3 separate regions of the Homo sapiens genome follow, and regions 2 and 3 are each linked to region 1. Evidence: fine-mapped expression QTL. A gene starts in region 1. Each other region holds a variant in brackets. All regions are shown on one strand. Distances are from middle to middle.

Region 1 (2,500 bases):
AGTAGCTGGGACTACAGGCGCACGCCACCACATCCAGCTAATTTTTGTATTTTTTTAGTAAAGACAGGGTTTTGCCATGTTGGCCAGGATGGTCTTGATCTCTTGACCTCGTGATCCGCCTGCCTCGGCCTCCCAAATTGCTGGGATGACAGGCGTGAGCCGCCGCGCCCGGCCTGCCCTGAGCCGCCGCGCCCGGCCTGCCCTGAGCTTTTGCAACAGGCTCCAGTGGTCTCCGTGTCTCTTTCCTTATTCCCCTCAAATCATTCTCCATATTGCAGCCAGAAATTATATTTTAAAACACAATTCTAAAATGTCACTGTCTCCCAAAACCCTTCAGTAGTCTCCCACTGCTCCTAGAGACTGAAATGTTTACCTGCTTACAAGGCAGGGGTTGGCCCCTGAGCACCTTTGCAGCTCCCTCTCTAGATGGATGAAAGTCAGGCTCCCTAACTTCCACCTTCCTCTCCATGTTCCAGCATGTTCTCACCCAGAGCCTCTGGGCCTTTTGTCCTCCTCACTGGAATGCTCCTAGAGGTTTCTCTCCCCTCACAGCCACCTAGTTTACTCAGGTTTTAGAGCCCAGCAAGTCCAGTCTACTCAGTTTTCTTTTTGAAGTTCCTATAACTTCAGTTCCTTTATTTAAGTTTGAGGTTGTACATGTCTTAGTATGCTTATTTGATTACAGTTAGTCTCCCCGCTAGACTGTGAGTGCCCTAAAGGCAGGAACCTTGCCCATCCCCTTTACCACTAGCACCGATCAAAATGCCTGGCACAGGGAGGCGCAATGAACAGCTGTTGAACGAGTGACTTCCAAATCGACAGCAAAGGGGGCGGCTGGATAGCGAGTCGCCCGCTCAGGAGAGATTCTGGGTCGGAAATAAAGATCTGGGAGTCATTTATAATTCCAACCAGACGAGTAGATGGGCTGGCCCAAGCGGTGTGTAGACTGAAGAGATTCTAACTCATGCAAGATAAGCAGCTACGTGGCTCACGGTCACGTCGCAAAAAACCTGGGGGCTCTCCTCCGCCTGCTTGTGGTCCCGTACAAGGCGCTTCCCACCCTGGGTCTCTGAGCCCAGTCGGTGAAAGACGGAAGGAGACCGATTCACAGCCCCAACAGCGCCGGTGATAGTCCCTCTGCCACCCCTTTCCCTCCGCTGCCCTCCCCTCCCCTCCCCTCCCCTCGATGACTTCCTCCAACAGCTGACGAAGCTGGATCCCTGGGCACCGCCTCTTCCGTCCGCGGCACCCGGAGACGCCCGGAAATTTGCGGGCGCGCCGGAAGTTGAGGGGAGTTTCCTGCGAGCTCGGCTTCCTCAACATGGCTGCGCCCTTGTCAGTGGAGGTGGAGTTCGGGTGAGTCACAGAGCTGGGGCGCCGTGGGGATGGATTGAAGTCGTCGGGCCCAGAATTCCTTTCCTTCTGCCGTGGGGCCTGACACGGCCGAATCACTGGGTGTCCCAGTGCCCGCTGTGAGCTACGCTACCCGCCTAGGAGAGTCTGAGAGGCCAGTCTCTCTTGGCAGTGAGGCCGTCTGTCCGGAAATAGAGGCGCACATTGGGAGGGAAATGCTCTCTGTGTACCACTCGGTGCCCTGTGCTCCGCCGGAGTCGGAGGTCGTGACTGTTAGCAGGCAGCCTCTCTCTCTTCTTTTCCATTCCTATCTCGGACCAATCCCATCTGTTTGGCATCTGAGCTCCTAGAACCTAGAAGGACCACCCTCCACCCGCTGATTTCATTCTTTGGGCAGCAGTTTCTTTTTACACTGTTATTAAGGTCTTGTTTCTCGTGGGATGTAGTGGCCAGGGCGGGACTTTTTTCTTTTTCTTTCCTAAGACTTGGGGATGGTAAACAGACCTGAGCCTCCTTCAGGACAGTCAGTAAACTTGCTGATTGCCTTCTGCAGAACTGGAGTCAGGTGGAGACACGGGGACAAATAAGAAATCACACTGAAGGGAACTAACAGGGACAGTATAGTATACACAAGATGAAAAATGCAGAGATTGGGACACACACCAGTTACTGAAGAAACACAGAGCAGGGAGGAAGTCTACCCAAGGCACTATTTGTGCTTCCTACAAACAGGTTTGTCATATGGTTTCAAAGCTGAGGGAAACTGCAGAGCTTAGAGAGAAGGCAAAGAAACAGGCCTTGAAAGATGGGTGGTGTACTTTACAGTATCACGTGGAAAAGAGGAAATAGGTAGGGATGTGTGTGTGTGTGTGTGGAATAGGTAGGTGTGTGTGTGTGCCTGTGTGTGTGTAGATAAGCCAAGGTCTATGTGACAGGAAAAGTCTGGGATGGGAATCTAAAACCTCTGCCCAGTGCCTTTCTTCTCATTGGATGCCTCCCATTTCTTTCATGTTTTCCCTTAATTGGGTAGTTCATTCACCAGCCATTTATTGAGTGCCTACCATGTGCCGGGCAGCAAGCCAGACACTGAGGATACAAAGATAAATAGAAGTCTGTCCGTGCCCTACAGCGTTCAGCATTTCTGCCC
Region 2 (2,500 bases), 28 kb after region 1:
AACAGACACAAATACCCAGCCAACTCTAATGAAAGCAGAGCCCCGGGAAAGCACGGTAGCTGAAGAATTAGCAAGGTTCTGGGGATTATAGAAGACAGAGATTCATTCCAACAGGGAAGCTGTGGGAAGACTTCAGGAAGAGCCAGCATTGCCTTGGGCTTCCAGGACAAGTGATTCCAGGAGGCTGAATCTTAGTGACAGCCTCTGTGCCTATCCATCGTGCCTGTCCTGCCTCTCTAGAAATGGGTGGGTGTTAGGAGGATCCAAACACCCTCTGCATGTGCTTGCAGTTAAGTAATGTGTCATCATGAGCTTCCACCATCACCACCATACACCCCGGGTGTGCATGCGCACACACACACAGCACACACACACAACCAACTCTCAGGAAGATGGCAGAGTCAGCAGGATGCAGTGGCTCACACCTGTAATCCCAGCAGTTTGGGAGGCTGAGACGGGCGGATCACCTGAGGTCAGGAGTTTGAGACCAGCCTGGCCAACATGGTGAAACCCCGTTTCTACTAAAAATACTATAATTAGTCGAGCGTGGTGGCAGGTGCCTGTAATTCCAGCTACTCAGGAGGCTGAGGCAGAATTGTTTGAACCCAGGAGGCGGAGGTTGCAGTGAGCTGAGATCCCACCAGTGCACTCTGGCCTGGGTGACAGAGTGAGACCTTGTCTCAACAAAAAAATTAAAAAAGAAGACCAGGCGCTGTGGCTCACGCCTGTAATCCCAGCACTTTGGGAGGCCGAGATGGGTGGATCACAAGGTCAGGAGATCGAGACCATCCTGGCTAACACGGTGAAACCTCATCTCTACTAAAAATACAAAAAAATTAGCCGGGCGTGGTGGCGAGTGCCTGTAGTCCCAGCTACTCGGGAGGGTGAGACAGGAGAATGGCGTGAACCCGGGAGACGGAGCTTGCAGTGAGCCGAGGTCACGCCACTGCACTCCA[G/A]CCTGGGCAACAGAGCAAGACTCCGTCTCAAAAAAAAAAAAATTAAAAAAGAAGACGGCAGAGTTGTCCACACTGCCAGTTAAGCAAGCCCTTCCTTCCCACCAGGACTGGCTTTTTTTTTTTTTTTTTTTGAGACGGAGTCTCGGTCTGTCATCCAGGCTGGAGTGCAGTGGCGTGATATCGGCTCACTGCAACCTCCACTTCCCGGGTTCAAGCAATTCTCCTGCATCAGCCTCCCAAGTAGCTGGGACTACAGGCACGTGCCACCACACTCAGCTAAATTTTGTATTTTTAGTAGAGGTGGGTTGAGACCAGGATGGTCTCAATCTCTTGACCTCATGATCCACCCGCCTCAGCCTCCCAAAGTGCTGGGATTACAGGCGTGAGCCACCGCACCCGGCTTTTTTTTTTTTTTTTTGAAGTGGAGTCTCACTCTGTCACGCAGTCTGGAGTGCAGTGGCACAATCTCCATTCACTGCAACCCCTGCCTCCCAGATTCAAGCAATTCTCATGCCTCAGCCTCTCAAGTAGCTGGGACTATAGGTGTGTGCCACCATGCCCAGCTAATTTTTGTATTTTTAGTAGAGATGGGGTTTCACTGTGTTGGCCTCAAACTCCTGACCTCAAGTGATCCGCCCACCTCAGCCTCCCAAAGTGCTGGGATTACAGGCATGAGCCATCGCACCTGGCCTGGCCTGGCCTGGCATTTTACCAAGGATTTTTTTTTTTTTTTTTTTTTTTTTGGTTATGGAGTCCTGCTCTGTCACCCAGGCTGAAGTGCAGTGGCGCAATCTCGGCTCAGTGCAACCTCCACCTCCCAGGTTCAAGCAATTCTCCCTGCCTCAGCCTCCCACTTAGCTGGGACTACAGGTGCCCACCACCACGCCTGGCTAATTTTTGTATTTTTAGTAGAGTCAGGGTTTTGCCATGCTGGCCAGGCTGGTCTCGAACTCCTGACCTCAGGTGATCCTTCTCGGCCTCCCAAAGTACTGAGATTACAGGCGTGAGCCACCGCACCAGGCCTTTACCAAGGATTTGACCAAACATTGTGCTCAGCACAAAGGACATGCTCAGTAAACATCTGTTGAATGAATGATGAATGAATGAATGAATTGATGAATGCTTTATTGAAGTAATAATTAAATGAATGGTAGATGGAGACGGATGCATGAAAAAGCAGACTTTGGGACAATGGAGTGAAAGATGAAATTAATAAGGAATTGACAGTGGGTGCACGGATGTTTGCAGCCAATCAGCTGAGGTTCTAGGTGTGGCACTTGAGATATTGCTGTGGGTGAGGCTCATTGAAGGGGGCTGGGAGGGGCTTCTGTCATGCAGCAGCCTCAGTTCTGCACTTTAAGGCAAGTCCAGGACCCAGAGCATGCAGACAGATGCCCAGGGAACAGCTGTGGCGACAGGCTCCACCTCTGTGCCAGATCTTTCCATCCCTAGATTCCTGTCCCCAAGTGTTTCTGTCAATCCGGGTTTCACTGTGATTTGGCCTGGCAGCCTGGGATAGAGGAAAGAACCCTATTGCTATTCAG
Region 3 (2,844 bases), 34 kb after region 1:
GGTTCAAGCAATTCTCCTTGCCTCAACCTCCCGAGTAGCTGGGATTACAAGTGCCCACCACCACGCCCTGCTAATTTTTGTATTTTTCTAGTAGAGATGTAGTTTCACCATGTTGCCCAGGCTGATCTTGAACTCTTGACCTCAGGTGATCAGCCCACCTTGACCTCCCAAAGTGCTGGGATTACAGGTGTGAGCCACCACGCCCAGCCTGAGTATGGGCTTTCTTTTCAAAATAATGAAAATATAAAATGGCTTGTTGTGATGGTTGCACAATTCTTGAATATACTAAAAGCTGTTGAATGATACACTTTAAGTAGGCAAATTGCATGGCATGTGAATTACATCTCAACAATGCTGTTATGAAAAAAAAAGAGGCCGGGCACAGTGGCTCACACCTGTAATCCTAGCACTGGCCGAAGCGGCTCACACCTGTAATCCCAGCACTGGCCGAAGCGGGTGGATCATGAGGTCAGGAGATCGACACCATCCTGGCTAACACGGTGAAATCCCATCTCTACTAAAAATACAAACAATTAGCTGGGCATGGTGGTGGGCACCTGTAGTCCCAGCTACTCCGGAGGCTGAGGCAGGAGAATGGCGTGAACCCGGGAGGCGGAGGTTGCAATGAGCCAAGATCCCGCCACTCTGCCACTGCACTCCAGCCTGGGTGACAGAGCAAGACTCCATCTCAAAAAAAAAAAAAAAAAGATAAAAAGAGAGGGATGGGGCTCAGGAATCCCACCTCTGCCACTTACCTGCTTGGCACATGACTTCATACCTCCCAACCTCAGCTTCCTTAACCAATAAAATAGGAAAAATAAACATCTCCTGGGTCTTTTGTGAGGATTAAATGAGATAATACATATTATTATTCCCATTTTATCAAGGAGGAAACAGGCCCAGAGAAGGGAAGTGACTTGGGTGCAGATGGCACAGCTGGTGGGTGGCAGGTGAGAGACTCAGGCCTGGGTCTCATGGCACCACCCCATCTTTTAGCATTGTGTAGAGTGGACCAGTGTCTGCACACTCCACCCACCCCTTCACCAACACTCTCTTCCATCTCCCTCCTTCTCTTGGGCTCTGGGGCCCTGTCTCCCCACTGCTCACGCTCAGAACAAGTGGAGGTGGCTGAGTCCCCCCAGAGCACAGGACACCCTCTCCCCCAGCCCCCACCCTGCTCCCCTCCTGGGGCCATGATGCTGTCTTGCTTTTGCTTGTAATAAAGAAAATATCTCAGCTACCCTTCCATGGTTGCTTGGCAACCCCGAGGGGGGTTGGGTGGGGGGGACCAAGGGGAGGAGGGATGGGGGAGGATTCTGGAGCCAATCTGGAGACAAAGAGTAGGATTTGGGTGACATGGAGCCTGTTCTTAGTGCTAACCTGGCCTGGCTGGGGCGGCGGGTGGGGGCAGCGGGCTTCCTCCCACCCCAGTGTCTCACACCAATAAATATGGATTAGGGAAATGGGCTGAGTTTTTCCCACGGGCCTGAAAGGCCGCATCTGACCTTTCTACCCCCTTTATGTACCAATGTGACAGTCAGAGACAGCAAAGAGCAGGACCCCCTGAGATGCCTCCCCCATGGCCTTCTGACTTGGGGAAACTTTTCACCCTCCTCCTTCCCCTGGCCACAGACCAGGTCACAGCTCTGCCTGGGCCCTTGTTCCGGGGATGAGAAGGAGGCT[G/A]GTTTCCAGGTGGGCGCCAGGAGCTCCCATCCTCAGTGTCCACTCCGGGCCCTGCTGGCCGTGACCGGTGCAGAGCCAGGCTGTGAGGCCCTGGACTGGTTAGTGACGGCCCTGCCTGCCTCCTAGACAGTCCTCTGCTCTGTGGCTCCCCCATCCTGTCCCTGCCCCATCTCTGCCTGGGCCGCCTCCATCAGGAGCCCTATCGTCCGTGTCCCTTTGCGTCCCTCTCCTCAGATACTTCCCACCACCCTCTTCTCGACTTGGTTTCCCTCTTTCTCTCCTCCTGCCAGCCCCCCACGCCCCAGTCGTCCATGAAACTAGGAAGCCCTTGTGGCTGAGGTATCTCCTGCAGTGAAGAGGGCAGGAAGGGTTGTGGAGGGGGAGGTGGGGGCCGTGATCTCACTCCCTGGTGCCCTGACTTTCTGGTCGTTGGCCGGGGGTGGGGATCGGCTGCTCTGAATGGAGTCAGTGTAGAGGCAGGAAAAGCAAACACCTCCGTGTGGGCCCTGCTGGCAGTGGATGGGAGCGGTCGGGGGGCAGGGGCCTGGGCTCCTCTCAGCCTCCTTGATCAGACCTCTCCCCACTCCTGAGGCTCCCTGTCTTCCTGGACCTTTGGCCTACAGTGTCCAGAAGGAGAGTGGGGTGAAGGTTTAGGGGGAAGCCCTCTGGGAGACGTCTTTGCTCAAATCTTTCCCTGCTCCTCTGCCCAACCCCCAGCCAGTGCCCTTCCTGCCCAGCAGATGCCAGGAAAATCTGTGCCCGGGAAGGGCGGTCTGGCACCTGAGGGCCCCGCCTGACCAGTCCTTCTCAGCAGCAGGAGCTGGGTGGGAGTCACCTTATGCCAGAGACGCCCCAGCAGTGCCATCCACCTCCTGGGCTGAGGAGTACCCCCAAGAGGCTCTGCCCGGGTGAGTGCTCCTCTGGCCCCACAGCCAGGCAGTGAGGGAGGGAGAGGTTGTCCATGTCGGGGCTCCCCAAGACCCCCACAATCTCCGTGAGTCCTCATGGTTCTGTGGCCTTTTCTGTTGTGACTGTCTCACCCTCTGTCTGGGACTCGTGTGTCACTGATGGTTTGGTGAGGGGAGCTGAAGGGATGGTTAGAGAAGCTGGAGGAGAGGGCTGGGAATGTGAGGAGGTAGGAGGGGCTGGAGTCTAGGGTAT

Evidence for each region. PIP is the estimated chance that this variant, and not a neighbour inherited with it, causes the effect.
Region 2: its variant is fine-mapped to the expression of URM1 in fibroblasts (GTEx, PIP 0.97).
Region 3: its variant is fine-mapped to the expression of URM1 in testis (GTEx, PIP 0.96).

The regions. Positions count from the first base shown.
Region 1 is chr9:128,370,060-128,372,559 of GRCh38, forward strand. URM1 (ubiquitin related modifier 1) reads left to right here and starts at 1,315. Exons shown (of 5, transcript NM_030914.4): 1 at 1,315-1,356. The coding sequence starts at 1,322. RefSeq lists enhancers at 1-486, 487-1,350, 1,414-1,513.
Region 2 is chr9:128,397,686-128,400,185 of GRCh38, forward strand. No RefSeq gene overlaps it. Among named protein-coding and RNA genes, the nearest start is that of MIR219A2HG, 5.4 kb to the left of the region's middle. The variant G/A (reference allele first, on the strand shown) is at 957.
Region 3 is chr9:128,403,498-128,406,341 of GRCh38, forward strand. No RefSeq gene overlaps it. Among named protein-coding and RNA genes, the nearest start is that of MIR219A2HG, 11 kb to the left of the region's middle. RefSeq lists an enhancer at 1,260-2,060. The variant G/A (reference allele first, on the strand shown) is at 1,684.